Regions from separate parts of the Homo sapiens genome. Here region 1 is linked to region 2. Evidence: fine-mapped expression QTL. A gene starts in region 2. The other region holds a variant in brackets. All regions are shown on one strand. Distances are from middle to middle.

Region 1 (12,704 bases), 140 kb before region 2:
GGGAATGTAAATTAGTACAACCTCTTTGGAAAACAGTGTGGAGATTCCTTAAAGAACTAAAAGTAGATCTACCATTCAATCCAGCAATCCTACTACTGGGTTTCTACCCAGAGGAAAAGGAGTCACTGCATGAAAACAACCCATTCACGTATATGTTTATTGCAGCCCAATTCACAATTCCAAAGATATGGAACCAACCTAAGTGCCCACTGACCAATGAGTAGATAAATAAAATGTGGTATATATACAACACGGAATACTAATCAGACATAAAAAAGAACAAAATAGTGTATTTTGCAGCAACTTGGATGGAGCTGGAAGCCATTATTCTAAGTGAACTCACTCAAGAATGGAAAACCAAATACTGTATGTTGTTACTTATAAGTAGGAACTAAGTTATGAGTATGCAGAGGCAGAGACAGTGATATAATAGACTTTGGAGACTCAGAAAGGGGAGGGTGAGAGGAGAGCACGGAATAAAAACTACATATTGGGTACAACATACACTACTCAAGTGACAGGTGCGTTAAAATCTCAGAATGCATCACCATATAATTCATCCATTTAACCAAAAACCGCTTGTACTCCAAAAGCTATTGAAATAAAAAATACACATTAAAAAAGAAAAAAGAACATTTGTCCCCTCCAAACTCTTGTTGAAATTTAATCCCCCACCTGGCAGTATTGAGAGGTGGGACCTTTAGGAAGTGATTAGATCATGAGGGCTCTGCCCTAATGAATGGAATAATCCATTCATGGATTAATGGGTTTATCATGGGAATGGGATTGGTGGCTTTATAAGAGGGGGAAGAGAGACATGAGCTAATACGCTCAGCCCTCTCGCCATGTGATGCCCTGCACCACCTCCGGACCCTGCAGGGAGTCCCCACCAGCAAGAAGGCCCTCACCAAGATGTGACCCTTTGACCTTGGACTTTGCCTCCATAACTATAAGGAAAATTCATTTTCTTTATAAATTACTAACTTTCAGGTATTCTATTAGAAGCAACAGAAAACAAACTAAGACAGATGAGGAGACGCTTGACCTGAGGCTTGAAGGATGAGTGACAGTTGGTCAATTAGGTCATGCTAGAGAAGGCGGGGGATGATGCTGCAGACAAAGGAAACGGGAGTTCAAAGGCACCCCGAGAGGAAGAGGAGGTGCCATTCAGAGAATGATGAATTGGTCTGCATGGCTAGGGAGTGGAGTATTGTGCAGAGAGGGAAGATTTTCTGCCCTCTGAGGGTGTGATAATTGAGTCTATGAAAAATGGACAGTAGGCAGATTAACAGGAAAAAAACATATTTAATTATGTATATATGCACAGGAGTCCCACAAAATCTGAGACTGGAAGAAGAGTCAGATGATTGAAGCTCATATAGTATCCCTGAGCTACAGAAAGCAAGAGGGGCTTGGTGCTTCTGGGAGTGGTGGTGACACACATCATGGGAGGGTGAGGGGAGGAAATGTGTGGCAAACAAAGGTTGTCTTATTGTGCAGATAAAAATTCTCTCGGGTAATAAAAGTTGTTTCAGAGTAGCCTATCAGAAGAATCTGTATCAGCCTGTGACAAAGTCCATCTGGGCAAGGTGTCAACCTTCATTCTCATCTTCTATGATAAGATCTTCCCTGGTTGATGAGAATCCTAAAAAATTGTTTTCCTTTACAGAAGTAAATTTCTTTTACCAAAGGACAGCTTTTCAGAGCTACTCCTGTGTCTGCAGTTTCTCAGAATAACCCGCTCAAAATATGCCAAAGAAGTATATCCCAGAGTGGCATATTTTGGCCTCCTACAGTCATATTTTGAGGTGTTGTGTCCTGAGCCGCCACAGTATGTATAACAGCAGCAAGGAAAGAGTTTGGGGTAGGGTACGGAACCCTGATATGCCATGCTGAGGAATATACACTTTATTCTGTGTATATTCATAGACACTTGCTTTGAGGGAATTAAAATGGAGGGGTAGCGAAGTCTTGTGAGTACTTTGGAAAGATCATTCCAGAAATGGGATGGGGGCAGAGTAGAAGAAAGTGAGTATGGAGATAGAGAGTTCCTTTAGGAGAAAATAGAAGATGGAGGCTCAAACTAAAGAGGTGGCAATGGAATAGCAGGGAGGAAACCGATTCTGAGGATATTTATTTAAGGTATTAAGATATTTATTTATCTAAGAGAATAGACAGAGCATGTTCATGAGGAGGAGGAGGAGGAGTTCAGCTCAGGGAGTGTTGACTGCCAAATGTCAATGAAACATCAAGAAGGGAAGCCCAGGAAGCAACTAGATGCTGGGATCTGAAGCCCAGGAGAGAGGTCTGGGGTGGAGAGAGTCATTTGTGTGTAAGTCAAAGCCGAAGCTGGGATCTCCCAGGAGAAACAAGTCAAGTGGGAAGAGAAGAGGGCTGATGCTGGACATCTGGGGAACAGTACCTATGGGCAGATGGAAAAAAGAGACCCTGACAAGAGGGTAACAAGGAAGCAGAGGGGCTGAAGGAACACCTGGGGAGATGAGTGTCCTAGAAACCAGGGAAGCAGAGCCCACAAAACGAGTCAGTGGTCGAGAGTGTTAAAAGCGACAGAAGACATCAGATTAAGTAAGACCTGAGAGGTTCCCAGTACATTTGACAATGAGCTGCTCAGATGTGATCTTTGCTAAAGCAGCTCCATGCAGTAGGGCGAGCAGTAGTCATACTACAGATGGTAGAAGAATGAATGGGGAAGGGGGACTGTAAGAACTTGGGAATAGCTTCTGGAGTATACGCTACTCTCTGTAGAAGATTGACTGTCATGGGAAAATGAATGGAGGAATATTGGGCTGAGAGGTTCCTTGACGATATGGAGAGCCTAGCACAGTGCCTGGCCCAAAAAGGCACTCAAATATGTAATTATCTAATAAAAGTTGAAATGATGAATTGCTAAATAACTGAAAAATGAGTCAGAGAAGACTTCTTGTATTTGAAAGCATTTAATTCCTCATTTAATTCCTCTCTTCACAAGAGAGGACACAGAAGATTAACCAGAAAAGGAAAAAGCATGCAGTCCAGAAGAATGTATGAACATTCATGTTGTAAGCAATGGGGAGAGAAAATTGGGGTGAGACCCAGGCATAGGCAACTGGAATGTGTGCCCCAGAGAGAAGGCAGCTTGTGAAGGGGGAGCTTCTTGCTGAGGAAGTGCACTGAGGGAATACAGACAGCATCATCAGGTAATACAATACACTAGATAGCAAACGGTGCTGAGAAATGCCATTGTAATCTAATGCTGGTTATTCAGGGTAACTGTAAAATCCATCTCAGTGCACTCTCAATCTTATCGATGACCTATTGTCTAAAGTAACGCATAGTGAATTCTCTAAAGGCAGAGATACCTTTTTTTCCTATCATAAACTACACAAGATATCAAGAAAGTAAGGTCACATTTGGAGTAGTATAAATTTAAACAGACTGTTAGTAGCAAATATTTAGAGCAAGACCAGACAACATTGGCTGACTTTGTGAAAAGGGGCCTGTATTTGGACAGATTTGATTTATTAGTTTTGCTATTTTATTTTATTTTATTTCATTTTATTTTGAGACAGGCTCTTGCACTGTTGCCCAGGCTAGTGTGCCGTGGCATGACCATAGCTCACTGTAAACTTGAACTCCTGGGTTCAGGCGATCCTCCTTCCTCAGCCTCCCGAGTAGCTAGGACTAGAGGCTTGCCTCACCAGCTGGACTAAAATTTTTTTATTTTTAATTTCTGCAGAGATGGGGACTTGCTATACTGCCCAGGCTGGATATGAACTCTTTGCCTCAAAGGATCCTTCCATCTCAGCCTCTCAAAATACTGGGACTGCAGGTGTGAGCCACCATGCCTGGCCTGTATTTGGACAGTTGTTGCAGCACCATGCTTAGCCTATATTTGGACAGTTTTTGCAGCAAAGATGGAATAATCATATCTTCCCTACAGAGTTCCTGTGAGAATTATAAGTGAAAGCCCTTTTAAATGATCAAGGGTGAGCTGTGTGTGTGTGTGTGTGTGTGTGTGTGTGTGTGTGTGTGTGTGTATCATGACCTAGTTGCTACTAAGGCCTTTGTGCGTGTCGGTGTGCTTCTGCAGCATGTACTCTTGGTTTTTGTTCCTCTTTTCTCTTACCTTCTTGATTAGGTTTGTTCTCTTATTAAATGATATAATACGTGCAAAATGCCTGACATAGCACCTAGAATCGGGGTGTGTGTGTTAACAGGAGTAATTGCCAGCGCTGTCCCTTCTTTCCCCCCATATCTCCATCTCTTCTCACTGGCTATCTATGGTCTGTGGGTGAACCAAGGGACGTTCCTCCTTTGCCATGAACTTTCAGAGGACTGATGACTCCTGAGCCTGACTTACAGTCTTTTAATTCTGGGCGAGTCACAACTTGGGGGCCTAATCGTGAGATTGATAAAGCTTAGGCTTTGAAATCACCAGCTGAATCAGCATAATCTCCACTGCTCATTCTGCAAAATCCTACAAGGTGTGGCATTAACTAAGATATTTCTAATCAATGCAGCTGCCTTTCCTTTAGAAAGCATTGACTCAGACATCAAATCTGTGATATTTATTTAGTTCTCGGAAGACTGGCTTTTTAAACATGACCTTTGAGTATTTACTTATGAAGGAGTTCAGAAAATGCTGCTCCAAAATACGCTGCTTTGGCAGGCTGGTTACTTCAAACTGAGGGTGCTTGGGGAAGGCAATTGCAAGAAGGAGCTTTCTCCGAACTTCCTTTTATCTGCCTAAAGACAGATCCTTCAGCCTGTAATCCCAGCACTTTGGGAGGCGGAGGCAGGTGGATCACCCTGAGGTCAGGAGTTCGAGACCACCCTGGCCAACATGGTGAAACCCTGTCTCTACTAAAAAACAAAAACCAACCAACCAACCCAACAAAAAACAAAAATTAGCTGGGTGTGGTGGCGGGCATCTGTAATCCCAGCTACTGGAGAGGGTGAGGCAGGAGAATCACTTGAACCCAGGAGGCAGAGGTTGCAGTGAGCCGAGATCAAGCCATTGCACTCCAGACTGGGCCACAAGAGTGAAACTCCTTCCCCTCCCCAAAAAAAGGCAGATCCTCTAATAGGAATTCATCTGTCAGGAATGGAAAAATCTGGGATCACAGCAGGCCCAGACAGATTAACACCTATGCTTCCGCTAGAAAACAACTCCTTATTACCTGATCAGCTTTTTAAAATTTGCACGAGACAACCTTTATTCTTTATACACTTCCTCCCCGACCCTCCCATAACTTGTGTCACCTGCCCGCCCCCCAAATTCCAAGATCCTGTTCTTTTCTGTAACTCAGGACGCTATACAGGCTTCAATCATCTGACCCTTTGAGCCTCATATTTTGTGAAACTCCCATGTGAACGTTGGTAATTAAAATGGGTTTTCTTTGTCCTGTTAATCTGCCTTATGGCAGTTTAATTCATAGGCCAGCCAAAGAACCTAGAAGGGTGGAGGGAAGCTATTTTTTGCTCCCTACACCCAGCAGACAGATACCCAGGGATGTGGGCAACCGTGAGAGGTAGAGATGGGCTTTGAGGGCAAGGGGTGTGGGTGCGGATGGGGAAGGGCATTAGGCTTCACTTCACAAGGGACTCCAGAATCTGCCCCTAATCCACCCGGCAAGTGCAATGCATTTTTGCGCCGGAGTTTCCTATCTGTTAACTGGGTATGATCATTCTTGCTCCATCATAGGGCAGCTCACGTATGTGTACATGGCACCCCCACCCACCACAATGGAAATGATATCGTTAGCTCTGACCTTGCATCCCAGCTCCAGAAGCCCAAACTCGGCTTTTCTGCGGCCGGATTGCTGGGTGAACAGAGCTTCGCGGAGGGGACCCCCTGCTGCCATCCTGCCGGGGGCCAGTGCCCGGGGCTTGGGGGAGGAGCAGCCGGGCAGGTTCGCGGGCACCGAGGGCGGCCCAGCTCCGAGCCCTGCAGCTTTCGCCCGCTGGAGCGA[G/T]AGCCGGCTGTAGGCGGCTCCTTCCTGTGCAAACTTTTCTGTCCTCTTCCTCCTCCCGCCCTCCGCACCGGCTCCTCGGCGCCCGGCGTCCACCTCCCCGCCCTTCTCGCTGCCTCCGGGTCGCGGCGCGCGGGGCAGAGCCGGGCAGCAGCGGGCAGCGCAGCCCTCGGCGCCGGCCCCACCCGGTGCTCCGGCCCCGCCGCCGGGAGCCGATGGCCGAGGCGGGCTGGCGCCCCGCGGCGTCCCCGGTCGATCCGGCCGGGCAGGCGGCGGCGGTCCCAGTCCCCGAGCCCGAGGCGCCCGCCCCGCCGGCGGCGCCTGCCCTGCGCTGGCTTCCCGGGGACCCGAGCCCCCGCGGCCGCTCACAGAGCGACCTCTCGTCGTCCTCGAGCAGGGGCCGCCCGCTCCGGGTCCACATCTCCGGCTCAGGTAAGAGCGGCTCGGGGCGCGGGCCGGGGAGGGCCGGCCGCGGGCAGGTGGCCGCGAGGGCGACGCGGCCAACCCGGGGCGCCCGCGGGCACTGGCCCGGCAGGCTGGCGGCGGGGTGGGGGTGGGGGACAGGGGAGGGCGGAGGCTGAACTCCCCACACTGCCGCCTCCTCGGCCGCCCGGGCTCGGCGACCCTAGGCGGAAGATGCTAAAAGCAGGCGACGGCTTGGTGCGCCTTGCGGGGCGAGTGTGCAGCCTGGGTTGGGGTAGGGAGCGCTCCCTCTCGGCTGCACGGCGCCAGGCAGCACCGCAGCTTGGCTTCCGAGGCTTTTCCATCAGAAAGAGGAACATTCTCGGTCTTCGGCGCGACTTTGGTCCCTCGGAAGGGTGCGGTTCCCTCACTTTGCGGGCTGGGACCAGGGCAGGTCTTGGGAGGCTTCCCAACTAACTGCTTATGGTTCTGAAATAAAGACGCCTTTTGCGGGTTGCTGGTAAGAGGACCCGGGATATGAGTTTTTCCTCCTTGCAAAAACCCATGAGGTTAATGGGGGAGAGCAGGGGAGAGTTTGGCGGGCTGTTTGTGCCTCTCATCCTTTAACATGTTTTGAAAAAGCCTCGGCCAGGAGCGGTGGCTCACGCCTGTAATTCCAGAGCTTTGGGAGGCCCAAGGCCGGCCGATCACTTGAGGTCAAAAGTTCGAGACCGGCCTGGCCAACATGGTCAGGAAACTTCGTCCCTACTAAAAATACAAAAAATTAGCCGCCGAGGCGGCGCATGCCTGTAGTCCTAGCTACTCAGGAGGCTGAGGCAGGAGAATCGCTTGAACCTGGGAGGCAGAGGTTGCACCACTGCACTCCAGCCTGAATGAAAAAGTGAGACTCCGTCTTACACACACACACACACACACAAACACACAAAAGCCTCAAGCTAGCCCCTCTGCGGTAGCACCGGCCCATGTGTTCTCAGAGGCTGCCCTGTGCCCCGTGCACCGGGACCGACGAAATCAGGAACTCAGCTAAGGCCGATGCTGCCGGCCGAGTTGTGTGACGTTGGGCAAATCACTTAACCTTGTCTCTCCTATCTCAGTATTCAGAGTGGGAATCATAGTATGGTACCACCACATTGGGAGGTTATGTGGATTAAGTAATCATTTTAAACTGCTTTTGAACAAAGCATTAGCCTAAGAATTGTAGGACTGTTTTTTAAAAGTCCACCAGATGCGTCAAGTTTCCACCAGTTGTCTGATGTGCAATCTTTGTAGGATGCATGGGAGCTGGGAAATTAGAAATGAAGCTAGCTAGCATCAAAAACTACCCATAGCGGCAAAAGCCCTGCCGGGGCGTGAACGTGCACTGTACCAGCTACCACTGCCCTGGTTTTCAGGCTCTGTGCTCCGGGATCAGGCCTTCTTTGGGTTCTAACTCAACCTCAGCTAAAGCTGAGCTTCCTGTTCAAAAAAGCACATTTCCATGCCTCTGACTCCACTTCAGCTGGCTAACTCTCTCACCATAGCCTTCTGTCTTCTTATTCTTGTCATATTGTTTTTGCCGCCCAACATGTGTACTTGAAAAACCTCAAAAGCATTGCCGTTGTGACTTTGTAGATCGCATTGGATGAAACAAGTCAGAACTGTTAGAATAGAGGTAGTGGGATTTGTGTAAAGATTCATCCTCTGAATTTGTATTGTGAAAAGCATTGAGTCCGAATGTTTTTAACCACCTGCTCTTGGTGTGCTGGCCAAACTGAACTCGAGCCATGGATTATTTTGATTGATTTCTACAAAGATTAACTGTTCAGAGACTCTAAAGAGACCACTGAGAATTCACCTAGTTGGTGATTGTAGACAAAGTATAGCTTGCATCGCCATTTTTCATTTTCATGGATGGAAATTATGGCCTGTATGCCGAAAAAGGACAGCAAAGACATTTAAAATGTGAGTGTGCAAAGTGTACATCATGTGAACCATGGGCTCCAATTTATAAAATTATTTTACTTCTGAGGACTCTTTGTCTTTTCTGTGTCCTCTTAACGGATGCTAGGAAGTGAAACCTTTCAGCTCAGTTGTCCCATGTGCCGCAGGATGCTGGCACAGATGTAGAAGAGTGAACATCTTTCATGTACCTGATTTCATTTTCAGAACTGAGCCTCGGATCCCTTTAAGAGCAGACTAAATGTGATCAGGAGCTCCCTGCTCTTAGAGTCAGAGAGAAAAAGAATGAGCAGGTCCTTCACTGACACACAGAGTATTTCTCCAGCATGCCCCACAGCCTCTGCAGCCTCTGTAAGCCATGCAGGATGGATCTGAGAATCAGCAAGATGACTGTGCTGGGATCTCTGAATTATCTCAGAGGCACAATAAGAGGGTTACACGCCTTGTAAAAACATTCCTTGGCCTAACACTATAGTAGCCCAATTTCCAGCCCTTCTCCAGAAGCTCTGGGCACACACAGAGGCAGCACCTAGAGCAAGGTCATGTGTGGCTTGCCAAAACAGCCCCGGACCAGCATCTGTGGCCTCATCTCAGAATCTCAGGCCCCACCCTAGGCCTGCTTAACTGAATCTGCATTTTAATAAGATCCCCAGGTTGTTCTTAGTCACCTTGCAGTTTGAAAAGTGCTGCTCTCCCACACTGGTTTTCAAACTTGGCTACACGTAGGAATTGCTTGGGGAGTTAACAACGAAGCAACCTGTGGCTGGGTCGCACACCTAGGGATTCTGATTTCATTGGCATCAGGTGCATCCTGGCCATTAGATGACGCTAATGAGTAGCGAAGTTTGAGAACTGCTGTCCTGTGCCATATTATGTCACCCTGGCTTGCTGCCGTATGTCTTGTGATACCGTGATACAAGTGTAAGTTTGAAGAATTTGTTTTAGTACCTTCTCACATCCCTATTGCTACATCCTCTCTTCTACTACTGCAGTCTCCCAAGCAGCCTTCCTTGCTCCTATTTTTGATTCCAGCTAGTTGTCAGATGTTCTTCCTAAGGGATAATTTCTAATCATGAGTTAACTCCCTGCTGTGGGTCCTTAGAAGAGTGTTGAGGGGAAAAGGAAATCACCTTTTGCAGTGACAGTGACCTGAAATGGAGAAGAGGAAGGGGAAGAAAGAGTGCTTGCCAAGAGTTGTCAGAGAACAGCCTCCCTCCAGAACGACAGACCATCCTTGCTACCTGCAATCATTACCCCAGCCTCCCCCACAGCTCCACCTCCATCCTTCTTTCCAGGAAAGAATAATAAAAACTTGGAACTCAGCCTCTAAAATCTTGCCCACTGCTGCAAACAGTCAGTCTAATACTAAATATATATTTTTAAAGACCTGTTCTGTGCTAGCACTGTGTTGATAAATACCGTGAGGGTACCCCAAGAGAATCGGCTTCCCCTGACTATGCTAGATTATTACTAGATTTTTGTCAAGACAAGCGTCTCAGACTTCAAGGGATTTTATTTAATTTGTGGCTTGAGGAATTTTTCACATAAGAATGCAAGTGCTTTATCAGAAAAAAAAAACCCAAGCCAGTTTTATATTTCAAAATCTATACAAAAAAGTTAAGAAAACAAAATATTTTCAAATAAGCAATTTTTAAAGATAGAATTGAAGTAACAGTGGAATTTATGAATAAACTCTTTTATTATGTTTATAAAAACGTGGATTCATTTTGCCATATGGTTTTTGAACTCACACTTCTGGAATTCAACAAAAGTTCTGAATTTATTTTTCTTTTTTTGAGATGGAGTCTTGCTGTGTTGTCCAAGCTGGAGTACAATGGCTGTTCGCCAGTACAACCATAGTGCACTGCAGCCTCAAACCCTGAGGCTCAAGGGATCCTGCTGCCTCAGCCTCCTGAGTAGCTGGTGTTATAGGCGCATGCCACTGCTCCCAGCCTTGGATTTTTAAAATCCAGTATTTCTTTGTAAATAAAGTGATGTTTAACTCAATTTTTAAAGTAAAATCTTGAAACAAGGTTCTCATAGTATATGGTCATGTATTCTCTTAAGTTTTAGACAGATCCTGTTCGGTATTAAGGAGCTTTGATAACTTTTTAGTGGTTTCTGATGTGCTGTTCTGATAAGCACAGTGTTTAGTAAGTAAAGAACCTGAAGACACACAGCCAGGGGCATAGACCATGTAAAGATTCAGCAAGTACCGACTGTTGGCCTACTGGGTGCCAGGTGCTGTTCTGGACCTGTGTGGGCTATAGGGAGGACCAAAAGATGTTTTTATTTTCATGTGATGATGCTTAGTCTTGCACATTGCACATTGGGCTGCATAGATCAGAGAACCATTCAAGCCACCTCCAAAAAAAGCAGTATAGGTGTGTGGACCACTTCATTAGCTTAATGTGCAAGTACAATCTCATCTTTTTATTACTGTGATTCATCTCTTCAGTATCCCTATGCCCTGGTATATATAGGCATAGGGGTAACAGCAAATCCAGGATCTTTTTCTCAAATCTTTAATTCCTGGTGTGTTCAGTGCTGAGTGGAAGTGAGAAATCTCGCATACCTCAATGTACTATCAGTTCATATGCACTGCTTCCTGGCCACTTCCATGAGATACTGCTGTCCAAGACCAGTTCTGCTGTTGGGTCACCTGTGCTGTTGGGGGAAGCTTGTGCTTGCTTATCCCTTGCTGGTGCTTCTACTATGTTTCTTACTGACCTCCAAGGTTGTAACTCTTTGAGTTGATGCTTTGTGCTCCGAAAGGGTGTCTGGGTCCCAAGAGGCTTCTGAGCCCCAGCCACGAGCTAAGCTGGAGGTGCCCTAGGCCAGGAACAATGAACACCTGCTCACTTTACATTTGTGTAACTCAGAGTGGGTTTTTTTCCAAACAAAGACCATCTGGTTCTAAGTTTACTTTCTGTCTCTCCCTGGTCAGGGAATAGCAAGGCCACCCTGCCCAGGCCAGCTCGGACAGTACAAGAGGGTGCTGGATGGAGCAGGTGCTGGTGGGCTCAGGTCCAGCCTGCGCTTTGCCCAGGTCAAGCTGTGTACCTGGTGTGGACATGTGTGCCTTCCTTCTCCCCCAGGGAGAGCACCCTTTTCTTTGCACAAAAGCCATGGGCTTCTCATCTACCCAGGAGCCTGACCGCCGGTCAGGCTTCATTCCAGAAGGGGCATCTCCTATCTGATTCTTACCAAGTTACCATAGCAGCTGATGACAGTCCTGTATCAGAGCTTGGCACATTTGAAAAATTGGCTTCACCTGTTAAGTCAGGAGGTCCTTATTAGGTCAGATTGCACCTGACCTGGGGCTGACACCAGAGAGTTGTCAGGAATTGAGGCAACCAATTCCTCTTTCTCTAGCCCTTTCCTAGGCTGGCATGGTTTCAGCAGGCTTGAGCTTCTGTTTGTCTCTCTGTTGACCAGCTTTCTTATTCTCTAATCAAAACAGATTATCTCTCCTTCATAGGTGTTTCCTCATCCATCTGCTTAAAATGGCACATCAGGGGTCCTACCTACCTGACAGCAATCTTCCTCTGTTTCCTTTTAGCTCTTGCCTTGTGTTTACCTGGGGAAAATTTCTTCATATTTCATAGTTCAAATTCTCTAGAAAAGACCTATTGTGTGAAGCCACCTTTATACAGCAAGACAGAGATCATATGCCCCATAGGTGCCTCTGGATTTGTTGCCTTTGATCAGATACTCACTGGAGCCGAAACCAGTTGTGGAGCATGAAGTCACAGTGCCAACATGGCCATGTAGAAGGGACTGAGCCTGGCCAGTTTCCATTCGTCCATTCATTCAATTAGTCTTTATTGATTACTGCTATGTGCCAGGTACTGTTCCAGGCACTGGGCATACAAAGGTGAGCAGATGTGATTCTGTGATTCTGGAGTTAGACTGAAAGCAGAGAGGATACTCAGAAAGGGTGTGGCAGGCCAGACACAGCAGTGTCTCTGGTGATCTAAGCTATAGGCCTTGCATCATGCTCAGTAAATAACATGATGATGATGATGACTGTTCTTGTTTTCAGAGGATGCATGAAGAGCTAATTTACTTAAACTAGTTAAGCTCTAGTTTGTGTCAGTACCTCAGTGGCAGCTCTGAGACAGATATTAAAGCCGTGGATTTATTCTGGCCCCTACGTACTGATGAAGATGCTGTAGGCAAGGGCATATCTTGATTTTTCATTTCTTCTTTCAATCAACAAATGGCTAGTGAGCTAACACAAAGGTTGCAAAGACATCCCTCAGGAACTCACAGTTTAGTGGGGAAAGACAGGCCAATAAGCCAAAGACCACAGTGCAATAAAGTATAAGCTATGATTAGTGCCCTGTCCTGGGCCTGGGGGAGAACCTAGGA
Region 2 (12,704 bases):
CATCAGGTCATTTATGTTCTTCTCTAAACTGGTGATTCTAGTTAGCAATTCCTCTAACCTTTTTTCCAGGTTCTTAGCTTCCTTGCATTGGGTTAGAACATGCTCCTTTAGCTCAGAGGAGTTTATTACCCACCTTTTGAAGCCTACTTCTATCAATTCATCAAACTCATTCTCCATCCATTTTTGTTCCCTTGCTGGCGAGGAGTTCTGATTCTTTGGAGGAGAAGAAGGCCAAGGCCTTTTTTTTTTTTTGAAATGGAGTCTCGCTCTGCAGCCCAGGCTGGAGTACAGTGGCACGATCTCGACTCACTGCAACCTCCACCTCCCAGTTCCAGGTTCAAGCAATTCTCCTGCCTCAGCCTCCCGAGTAGCTGGGATTACAGGAATGCGCCACCATGCCCAGCTAATTTTTGTATTTTTAGTAGAGATGGGGTTCCACCACGTTGGTCAGGCTGGTCTTGAACTCCTGACATCATGATCCGCCTGCCTCAGCAGCCTCCCAAAGTGCTGAGATTACAGGTCTGAACCACTGCACCTGGCCCAAAGTCTTTATAGTTAACTGCAAGGTCCTATGTGGTTATAATCTCCTTCTCCTCATCTTTACCTCTCTTATTCTATGTACTCCAACCACACCATTTCCCCTGGATTCCTCAAACATATGCCATGCTCCTGTCTTTATATTAACTGGTCTTTCTTCTTGGAACACCTCTCCCCCAGATAGCCATATGGTTAACTCCATTACCTCCTTTGTGTTTTTGCTTAAACATTATCTTCTCAGTGAGGACAACTGTGAACACCACATGCCAGTCCAATCTCTCTTACTCTTCTGAATTTCATAGCACTTTTCATCTTCTAAATTGTTATAAAGTTTACTGATTTATTATGTTTACTGCTTATTTTCTGTCATTCCATTAGAAGGGAAGCTCTATGAGTGCAGGTGTTTTTGTATTTTGTATAATTCTGTCTCCTAAGTACCTAGAACAAAGACTGGTAAAAAGGAGATGCATAATAAATATTTGTTGAGTGGTGAACCAATCAATGAGTTATTATTAATATAGAACTAGCATATATGTAACACAATATAGACCCAAAGTCTTTTCATGGAGCAGGAATACAGTGAAATACAGTTACATCCCAAATGCCCATTAACTGGTAAACAGATAAACAAACTTTTGTATAGCCATACAATGGAAGGCAACCTAGAACAAAAAGGAACAAAATACAGATACACAGAGCAACATGGATGAATATCAAAAACATATGAAACAAGCCAGATTAAAAAAAACTGTACATAATATTATTCCATTTGTAAGAAATTTTAGATAAATCAAAAGTATGGACATGGAAAGCAGGTTGGCAGTTCCCTAATGCCAAGGGTGGTACAGGGATGTGAAACAGGAATTAACTGCAAAAGGACATGATGGAATACCTTAGGGATCTCAAAGTTTTCTGACACTTGAGTGTGCTGTTGGTTGGACTACATGTTTATTAAAACTTATTGAACTGTTTGCTTTAAATGGGTACATTTTAGGGTCCATAACTTATTCTTCAAAAAGCTGCAAGCAAGCCTGGGCAATATAGTGAGACCCTATCTCTACAAAAAAAAAAAAAATTACAAATAATTAGCTGGGCATGGTGGCAGGCACCCATAGTCCCAGCTACTCTGGAGGCTGAGGTGGGAGGATTGCTTGAGCCCAGGAGTTCAAGGCTACAGTAAGCAATGATTATACCACTGCACTCCAGCCTGGGCCACAGAGCAAGACGCTGTCTCAAAAACAAAAAACAAACAAAAAAAGCTGCAAGCAATAAACAAACAAATACAGTTAATTCTGACCACCTACTATTAGAATTTAATCTTTCTTTAATTCAGGAAGCACTTCACAATCTTAGGGCACCTTCAGAATGAATGAGCACCTCTGTGTGGCAAAAATGTGGATTTAGTAATTTGCTAAAGTTCAGAGCCTTCTCTGTACTAACCTACTGGGCATCCCTAGCACTTGGAGGAACAAACTTCTTCTTTTTTATTTTTATTTTTATTTATTTATTTCTTTTTGAGACAGAGTCTCACTCTGTTGCCCAGGCTGGAATGCAATGGCTCAACCTCAGCTCATTGCAACCTCCGCCTCCCAGGTTCAAGTGATTCTCCGGCCTCAGCCTCCCAAGTAGCTGAGATTACAGGAGTGCACCACCACGCCTGGCTAATTTTTGTATTTTTAGTAGAGACAGGGTTTCACCATGTTGGCCAGGCTGGTCTCAAGCTCCTGACCTCAGGTGATCCGCCCACCTCGGCCTCCCAAAGTGCTGGGATTACAGGCATGAGTCACCACTCCCAGCTGGAGGAACAAACTTCTCTTCCTCCACTGTTAGGATCATGTATTTGTAGGCTGCAACACCCACCCTCCACCGTACCCATACTATGACCTCCGCCACAGGAGAGTCCATACCTCACTTATCCTTATGCCCATGTGCTAGAGGTACCACGCCCATGGGAAGTCCTCAGTCAATTCTAGGTGAATGAGTAGATGATTATTTCAGAGGGGCATACAAAAGAAAATTTACAGTCACAGACAGACTCGATATTCTCTTGCTATGGAGTCAACATTCTATATTATTACCAAAATTTTACATGTATTCCCAGATTTTTTTTTTTGTCCATACTTGGAAGTTACCATTAAGGAGATAACATAAATGCTTATTTTTAATTTATCATCTATGTATTCAGTACCCTCTATTTGCCAGGCAAATTTTGTTAGTTTCTAGGGATGGATGTGATGGTTAACAAAACAAAGATTTGGGCCTTACTGGAAGCAATTATTTTGTGTAAATTGGGCAGTCATATAAAAGATGTCTTTAAGGACTGTTCTCTTTAGATTTTGGTCAATAAATTAAAGATTATTCATTTTATAGCAGTTTTTAGAGTTTTAATACTATGGATGAGTACTTTGTTTTGCTTATGAAATGAAGTAGAGCAAAATTACAGACGCTTTTCCTCCCAGGGTAGGGAGAATGTCTTTGGAAAAGGAAATTCCAGCACCACCCCTTGAGGTCTTTATTTTCCAGCATAAATCTTCCAACTGTGGGGCTCACTCACTAAGCAAGCACACGTGAGCCACACCCCGCCTCTGCAGAGACTCACGCAGGGTGAGGCAGAGGCAAGGTATTTTGTTAATCCTTTTAGCTTGAGCAAGCAGAAGAAGGAAAACTCAGGAAATAAATCACATGAAAATATGAGAACAATAGGAAAGAAAAGCCTGTCTTTCAGGTTTGTTTCCTGTTCTAATACTTGTGGAATGTGGTCTTCTACTGATGCTTAATATAACTAGAATATGCAAAGTTGTAATTCTTTCCTTAACAAAAGTTTTCCTTTATCTGTTAGCATTATCCTGTTCAAACCAGCATCTCTCAGAATTGTTAAAATCTAAGATATAGTAGCCATTTAGTTGCAACTTTACCATAGAGTAACATTTTACAAAGTAAACATTAGTTACATATACAGAGTTTTCACTGAGTTTATATTATCTAGTAAAGCTCCCATTTGCTTTTTATATTTTTCTAAGTAAGCTGACTCTTACAAAATGTAGCCAAGTTTTGAAGACATACAAAGTTTTTAAAAACCAGAAGATCTTCTAGTAAAAACTACCCAAATAGTTAAAACAACTTTTGCATATCGTTTTTAGTATACTATTAGGAAAACTGCTAAGTTTTCATTCATTTCCTTCCCATTAAGAAATAATTTTTCTATTGCTACAATTCCCATTAGCCAAGGAAATGTCACTAATTCACAGGGTGTCTATGGTCAAATCTAGAAATAAGGGTGTAAATTAATGTAATCTTCATCTGCTTGTATATGGCCACTATCAACCACTGTTGCCTCCCAGGTCACTGCTGTTCTGATCAACCATCTCATCTCTTGGGACTCTGCCTAACCCTTCCCTCCCATCATAATTCCTCCACCCCTAACATCTGGTGTCTCAAAATGAATCCTCACACAGCTGGCAGCATCTGGACAAGGCAGAGACCTCCAGGATTAGTATTCATGGCATTTGTGTTCTGAGGAAGGTTCCTTCTTCTTCCTGCTCCAGGCTAGATTTGGCTGCCTAGAAAAATCTGGCAGTAACCTAAGTTATAGGATTTGGTAGTGGTGACTGTAGTAATTGTAAACCATCTTCTCTAAAGGCACCAAGTTGTATGTCTGCCATTTGGACTTTGACCTAGAAAAGAACTTTCTCACAAATGGTCCAGATTGCCAATGTTTAGGCTTTTGTCCGCTTTAACTTTAACCTAATAGATATAGTGGCTTCCATCCAGGAGGAGTGCAAGTGTCACTTTGGGTACCCCAGGTGGGTGAGTCTAAGACTTCCCACATCAGACAAGCCAGTGAAGTCTGTGTTACAGGGTAGAATGCTTGAAAACCTGATAAGTACAACTTTGTGTCATAAAGGCACACTGGCTTTCAGAAGGGGAAATTCTATCTCACTAATTCACTTTCTTTAGTTTCTTTCTGGAAATAAATGAATAAATCACAGTAGTTCTTTCAGAGCTTGAAAAATATTTAGAGTGTTCCATGGAAAAAATCAGTAGATGCCATTAGTCTATATTTTTAGGAAGGCTAAATAGAAGCTATTCCTCAAACTCAGCCATGGTATGATATGATGCGGCATTATTATAACAGAGAAAAGTAGCGGTGTGCTGAAGGCAGTTCACACAGGCTGGTGGGCCAAATTGTTACATTTCAAGGAATTTTGCAAGCTGTTTGATATCAGTTTTGCTAGCTGGTTGAAGGCCTGTAGAATAGGTTATTGTAGGAGTATTTACATCACAGTAAACAAAGCAGTCTGAGGCCCCCTCCTGCCTCCTCACCCCCAGCCCAAACCAGTTAAGCATTTACCAAGATATCACTGGATAAGAGATTGGTTTAGAAATAGAGAACAAAGGGTGGGACCAATGGGATAAATGCTGAAGAATTATAAATAGATAGCTTCCTCAGAGTTAGGTATTGGGTCTAATCCTGTTTAGCATTTTAATAAATTCCCTAGAGAGAGGTAGTATACAGAGAAATGTCCATGCCTTTCAGATGACATTAAATGTTTCCAGAGTTAAACTATAAACCCATGGGATTAACACCCAGAACTCTTAGTAAAACTGTGTGAGTTCTAATAAGGCAAGAGTAAGGCAATTTGGGGGAAAATTATCTTAAAATTCTCTTGTTAGGTGATAATATCTAACCTTTGCGTTACAACCTAGAAATGAAATTTAGAGATTTCTGTAGACGTTTTCTATGTTCATTAGTATAACTTGTTAGCTGTGATAAAAAGGCCACTTAAATGCCAAGTTCCATCAGAAGCTCTAGAAACCAAGAACAAGAACTGTCCCACTCTTAGAAAGAAAACTTAGTGCACACTTCCTGCAGTTTTGGTTGACATGCTTCAAGGATAATGTAATGGAACTGGAAGAGTTTCAGAGAAAATTGCATAACCTGGTTAGGGTATTATAGGAATCCCAGATGAGGCTGAAGATTATATTAACTAGCAAATCATGAAAGGTCTTGAATAAGGTAAATATAGCTGTATTAAGCAATTCCTGAAAAACTGGAACTATAGTGCACCTCCTTGATCTTTGAAATAAGAATTTATAGAAGTAATAGAAATATGCTATTGTTTCTCAAGGAAAAGAAGAAATGATAGCAACCTTAAAGTTTAACTTTTATCAGTATTTAAAAATTATTACAGTTACATATTTTGAATGTGCAAAAGGTACTGTATATTTCCTCTGATCAGTGACCTCCCTTTATCAGAAAGACTGTCAAAAGGAAGAGTGAAACATTCTCCCTCTTAACTTACCTTTAACCACTTTTGTTTGTTTGTTTTTTTCTTACGGCAACTCAAAGCAAAGAGCTGGAGGAGCCAGCCATTATAATTGCTTACTCTCATCGCTTAGCGCCCCAGGTGGGATGTGTTTCCAAAACACATTTTTGTATTTATAAGGAAATGTAGTTAGGATTAATTTTATTGTCCTAATTAGAACTCACATTTTGGTTAAATCCTCAATTTCATTAAAAAAAAAAAAATCAGTGTTTCTTAAGAGTGAATTAGGCAAAGGGAAGAAGACAATGGATCACACTTTTTTAGGGAAAAGATCTTCCTCACAGTGGTGGGTGGGCTATTTGGGTGTGAAAAAACATAGGGCAACTTAATTAACCATGACAAAACAGACAAGTAAGTGCCTTTCAAAAAAATCAAACAAGGCTCTGCACGATCTTAATAATAAAAATTTTAGAAAAAAATGATTTTCATGTTAGTTCAGAGTTGATTGTCTAGGATAAATTAAAAAATGAAAGCTGTGGTAAATGACCTAAATATATTGCACTTTCTGATATTTTTTACATTTTAATGAAATATATGCCTTCAGCAAAGTGCACACATCATTACAGACATCTCAATGAATTTTCATAAAATGAACACATCCAGTAACCACCATCCAATCTAATGCACCATATACAGATGTTCCATATACTGTATATATATATACACACATTATATATATATAGCATGAAGATTACTTATACTAATTAATCATTAACTGTAAATATGAAGAATATTTATTTGTATTCATATTTTTAAGAAGATTGAGATTTAACAGGATATTATAGAAGGGTTTAATTCACCTTTCAAGTTTGTTATAGTTTTTTTCCCCTTTTGTGTATTTTAATCACTTTATTTCACAGTAATTCTTTTGAAATAAAGGAGAGGTCAGCACTCCAGAGTTTTAGGTGGGAGACAGCAAAAAGTATATTTTGTTGATCTCACACGTAGACCTACCATTTAGATTTGTTGTCAAGCCTGATTGAGGCCATTAGTGCCGTTTTTAAAAAATTATATTTGTTAAAAGGAAGATAATTTTTAAAACGAGAAAAAAATGGGCACAAGACATGAGAGTGCCACAATACTGCAAATAGAATGTAAGGAAGGAAATAACTTTTAAGAAACAAATTTTGTTAAATTAAGTACCGTGACTAAATACTTTAATTCCTTTTCTTGTAGCCCGTAAGGATCATTTGACTTTGAACCTTTTAAGTCAAAGAGGAGTAGTCTGAAAGCCTGAACTCCCTACCACCCTGAGGGGGTGCGGGTGCGGCGGGGCCGGCTGGGGGCTTCCCCCACCCCCTGCTCCTGCGCCCTCCCCCCGCTTCCCCCTCCTCCCCTCCCTATCGCCCTCACCCCCCTTCTTCCCCCGTGACCCCTGACCCCAGCTAATCTGCATAGAGGAATGACAGGCATCCGCTGGGCAGGATCCGCCGCGCCGGCTGCGGCCGGCCGGGCTGGGAGACCCGCGCGGGGTAGAAGGTGAGGGGACCCGGCGGGCCGCTCGGCACAGGCCGGGACATGAACGCCTGGAAGTCTGGCTGGGAGCGGACCCATGATCGAAGGACCAAAGGAGCCGCTTGATCGCTGGACCTGGCCCTGCGACCCCAGTCATGGGCCAGACCTCGGTGTCCACGCTGTCCCCGCAGCCCGGCAGCGGTGAGTCCGGGGCGCACGCGATGCGCTCCCGCCGCGCGGGCGCAGGGCTGGCGGCGGGGCCCCGGGGCAGGCAGGGTTAGTCGTCTGGTCGGGTTCCGCTCGGACCCGCCAAGTCCCTCGGAGAAACCCCAGAGGTAGCGCTCGCCAAACTCTTTGTCGTGAAAGAGGAATGCCTTTTGGGATCCAGCCGATTTTACCTTAAAGGCACAGGCTCCATTTTTCTGTGCGCGATGCCTCGCTGTGGTTTTTTATCCAAATTATTTCGGAGCCAGAAACTTACGGGAAACGCCATTTGCGTATTACAGTGTTTTTAAAAACGCGAAACTTAGAGAGCAAGAGAAACATGCCAACAGGTTTTTCTGTATTTACGCTTGGCTTCCGAACAGACTAGGACTGAATGCTTTCAAGCTTGTCAACTGATTTATGGTTTGTTATTCGGAGTAGAAGCGCTGATCGCCTTATCCTGGCAGACGCTGAATACTTAATAACTAGCCCCGAAATGCGTAATTGTTTCAAATGAGACTTGTTTTGTTTATAGTAGATACAGCAGCTATAACATTTAGGGAAACATATCTCATGAACTTAGTTCTCCAGGACTAAAGTTAGTTTTATGGAGACGTGTGTAACGTGTCTGAGTTCTAATGCTCTGTTTTAAAAGTTTCTTTTTTCCATTTTCTTAAACAAAAAGAGGGAAGGAAGGTACGTCTGGCATTTCCCCGACAGTGTAGGGATAAAAAAAAAAAAAACTGTTTGGTGGTGTTACTTGTGATTGGATAAGGAAATAAATTTAAAAGGTACTATTTTGATATTTTTCCATCAACGATTAAAAATAAATAATACTCGAAGGGACCGTTTATGTTACTCATTGAGATATTTGATACACTTTTTAAATTGTGCAAACATCAACAGGATCTTGCTGAAAGGAAATGACAGGGTACAGAGGAAGGTTTTTTAATCTGCCTCAGGATGTCTAGCTAGATAGCATTCTGTCATTCCAACCCCCCACCCCACTTTATACCCAGTGGGTTTCTTTAGGTAGCACAGCTTCACTCCCTGAGATACCACAAGCTTTGCTGAGGTTTCTGTTAATACCACAGAAGACCCTTCTGCAAAGAAGAGACATCAGAATCAGAATATACCTTCTTTACCATTAATGACATGGCTACAGCTCTGAAATCAAAGACCTCATGTTGACAGCTTTTTGAGAGATATTTGCGGGGAGGGGTTGAGTAGGATTTTAAATTTAGTAAACTATTTTGTGCAAATAAGACTTGGTTTCCTTTGTCTTACCTTAAAGTGGTGTGAGACTTCTTTTCATTTCAAGGAAGGGTTATATTTTTACATTTGTGCACCGGCGAAGATAGAATTAAATCTGTACTCCAATACAAGAGTATACAGAAAGTATTGTCCTGAATTTAGTGATTTTATCACAAAATATTACTCGAGTGAATATTAGAAAAGCAAATTTTGCCTTAATAAAAATCAAGGAATATTATATAAATGATGTCTAAGAAGCAAATAAAATCCTAAAGTGAGACTCCCTACGTCTTAGTACAGCAAAAAAACCCGGATTGCTATAATTCCAAATAAAATGACTGATTATAATGAGAAACTGTAATCTACTTAAGTAAAAAGTGTTTTAAACAAAAATTTATGCTTGATCATGAAAGATAATTCAGAGAAATATCTCACGGAACGGTGTTATACTTAAATTGCAGGTCCTCAGTTTTGCGGATTAAAAGTTTGTATGAATTGAAATGACCAATCCATACATCATAAATACAGGGTTTTTTATTTTTCAGTTAAGGAATGACAGTGGTTATGACTTAAGTTGTGGTATTGTAAAAGAACAGTTTTCTCGTGGTATCCAGTGTCTCTAAATCCGTTAGAGCTACCCTGTTTCCCTGAAGGTTTGCCATCAGATTCCAAATGAAAACCAAAAAAAAAAAAATTTAAATTAAATAACGTTTGCTGAGTTTTATATTCATGTCTGTATTTTTCTGAGTCTGAGACTGTCAAACTCTCTACTATTCCAGGTATTTTGTTCACTCCTTGTTAACTGTTTAACTCTGGCTTTACAGATGGCGTGAAGATCCTTGTTCTGTTTGATCTTAGCCATTGACTAGTTGTTTAAGTCTGGAGCAGCTGCTTAGGATTACAGTATTAAAGATGATTCTCATCTTAAATGCTTAGTGGGCGAAAATCTGTTTAAGTCAAAGGAATCAATAGCACAGAGTTTAATTATTCATACTTATCGCTCAATTTGGCCTTTTGTAAAAATCTTCATTATAGGCTAGAAGTTAGCTTGCTTTCCCCGTTTTGACTTTAGGCTCTCTAGAGCCTTTCAGTTTAGGTTGCACCTAATTCTCTGGGTTCTAGGAAGACCATTAATAATTTTTTCTGAAAATATGCAGTTAGATCCATTATTAAAAAGAACAGCTGTATTGATGTATAATTCACATACTATAAAATTCACCCATGGAAAGTGTACAGTTCATTGTTTTTCAGTGTGTTCACAGTGTTGTGTGACCCTCAATCTCTGTTCCCACCCTATTCAACCAGTGGGCTCTACCTTAATGAAACACTAATCAACTTTTCTGTCTCTATAGATTTTCTTATTGAGAACATTTCATGTCAATGGAATCATAATGTGTCATTTTGTGACTGGCTTCTTTCAGTTAGCATAATGTTTTCAAGGGTCATCCATGTTGTAGCATGTATCAGTTGTTCATTTCTTTTTATTGCCAAATAATATTCTACTGTATGAATATGCCACATTTTATTTATCCATTTATCAGTTGATGGACATTTGGGTTATTTCTGCTTTGGGCTATTTATGAATAATGCTGCTCTGAACTTAATGTACAAGTTGTTGTGAAGATATGTTTTCATTTCTCAGGTATATATTTAGTAGTGGAATTGCTAGATTATATGGTAGGTAGTTCTATGTTTAACCTTTTATGGTGTTGCCAAACAGTTTCCAAAGAAGTTAGACCATTTTACATTCCCACCAGCAGTGTATGAAAGTTACAGTTTCTCCACATCCTTACCAACATTTGTTACTGTCTTTTTGATTATAGCCATCTTAGTAGGTGTGAAGTTATATCTCATGGTTTTGATTTCCTTTTCCCTAATTACTAATGACCTTGAGCATCTTTTCATGTGCTATTGGCCATTTGTATATCTTCTTTGGAAAAAATGTCTTCAGATCCTTTGCCTAATTTTAGTTGGATAATTTGACTTCTGTTGGAGTTTTAGTTCTTTGTATACTAGATCCAAATCCCTTGTCAGGTACATGATTTGCAAATATTTTCTGCCATTCTCTGGGTTGTCTTTTCATCTTGGTAGAGTGATTTGCAGCTCAGAATTTTAAAGTTTTGATGATGAGCAGTTTATCAATTTTTTTCTTTTGTTGTTTGTGTTTTTGGTATCACATCTGAGAACTACAGCCTAACCAAGGCAAGAAGACTTACACCTGTGTTTTCTTCCAAGCGTTTTATAATTTTGGCTGTTACATTTAGGTCAGTAATACATTTTGAGTTAATTTTTATGTATGGCGTCATGTAGGGTTTCATTCTTTTACATGTGAATATCCAATTGTTCCAGCACCATTTGTTGAAATGACCGTTCTTTCCCCATTGAATGGTGTTCCACCGTTGCCAAAAATTGATTGACTGTGTACATAAGGGTTTACTTCTGGATTCTCAATTCTGCTCCATTGTCTCTTCTTATGCCAGTTACCACAATGTCTAGATTACTGTAGCTTTGTAGTAAATTTTGAAACCTAGAAGTATGAGTTTTTCAATTTTGTTCCTTTAAAAGTTTCTACTGGTTATTCTGGTTCCCTTACATTTTCATATGAATTTTGCAATCAACCTGTCAATTTCTGCAAAAAAGCCAATTAGAGTTTTGATAGCAATGATATTGAACCTGTAGATCAATTTGGGTAGTACTGCTGTCTTAACAATATGAAGTCTTCTAATCCATGAACATAGATGCCTTTCCATTTCTTTGTATCTTCTTTCTTTTCACCATGTTTTGTAGTTTTCAGTGTAGTGCAGTGGTGCGATCATGGCTTATCCACTGCACCCTCAACCTTCTGGGCTCAAGCGATCCTCCAACCTCAGCCTCCTGAGCAGCTGGGACCACTGGTGCCCACCACCATGCCCAGCTACTTTGTATTGTTGGTAGAGATGGGGTTTTCTGTGTTGCCCAGGCTGGTCTCAAATTCGAGATCTCAAGAGATCCACCCACCTGGGCCTTCCAATATTGCAGGGATTATAGGCATGAGCCACCATGCCTGGCCTGAACTCATTTTTTAGTCCTAGTAGTTTTTCAGTGGATTCCTTATGATTTTCTATATACATGATCATACTATATACAAGATCTATTTACATGTGCAAAGAAACAACATTTTAATTCCTCCTTTTAGAGTTGAATGCCTTTTATTTTATTTTTTTCTTACTTAATAGTTCTGGCTAGAACCTTTAGTCCAATGTTAAGTAGAAGTGGCAGTTGTGAGCATTTTTGTCTTGTTCCTGATCTAACAAAAAAAGTTGTTTTTTTGTTTTTTGTTTTTTGTTTTTTTTTACCATTAACTGTGCTATTAGCTATGGGTTTCTTCATAGGTTCACTTTGTCAAAAAGTTCTCTGCTATTCCTACTTTGTCAGTGTTTTTATCATGAAAGATTGTTCAATTTTGTCAAAGGTTTTTCCTGCCTCTATTGAGGTGATCATATGGTTTTTGTCCTTTATCCTATTCATTTGTCATGTTACGTTAATTGATTTTTGGTTGTTAAACCAACCTTGCATTCCTAGGATAAATCCCACTTGGGTAATGTGTATAATCCTTTTTGTATGTTGCTGGGTTAGGTTTACAAAAGTATTTTACTGAGAATTGGATCCATTATTTCTAAGTACAGGCTAAAACGATATGCCCTCAAATAGGATGGTTTCGGTACCCTCTGGCATCATGCCCTAGGAGGATTGAGACTTCTAGTATTTCATTGTGAAGTGTAGAGCATGGTAGATTGGATACAATACATTTTTGATGAATATATGAATGAGTCAACAAATAGTCTCAATAAGCAGCCTGACTGCTTTAAACCAATGATTATATGAATGAGAGGTATGTATTTTTTATATTCTTTTTTTAGTCCAAGAATTACATTACTCTGGCTCTAT

The links. PIP is the estimated chance that this variant, and not a neighbour inherited with it, causes the effect.
Region 1: its variant is fine-mapped to the expression of PHACTR2 in whole blood (TOPMed, PIP above 0.99).

What each region holds. Positions count from the first base shown.
Region 1 is chr6:143,530,807-143,543,510 of GRCh38, forward strand. It overlaps a transcript of PHACTR2 not described here. Among named protein-coding and RNA genes, the nearest start is that of FUCA2, 25 kb to the left of the region's middle. RefSeq lists silencers at 4,063-4,152, 5,739-6,168, 6,189-6,548 and an enhancer at 8,382-8,431. The variant G/T (reference allele first, on the strand shown) is at 5,973.
Region 2 is chr6:143,670,690-143,683,393 of GRCh38, forward strand. PHACTR2 (phosphatase and actin regulator 2) reads left to right here and starts at 7,276. Exons shown (of 13, transcript NM_001100164.2): 1 at 7,276-7,520. The coding sequence starts at 7,475. RefSeq lists an enhancer at 6,620-7,468 and a silencer at 7,218-7,517.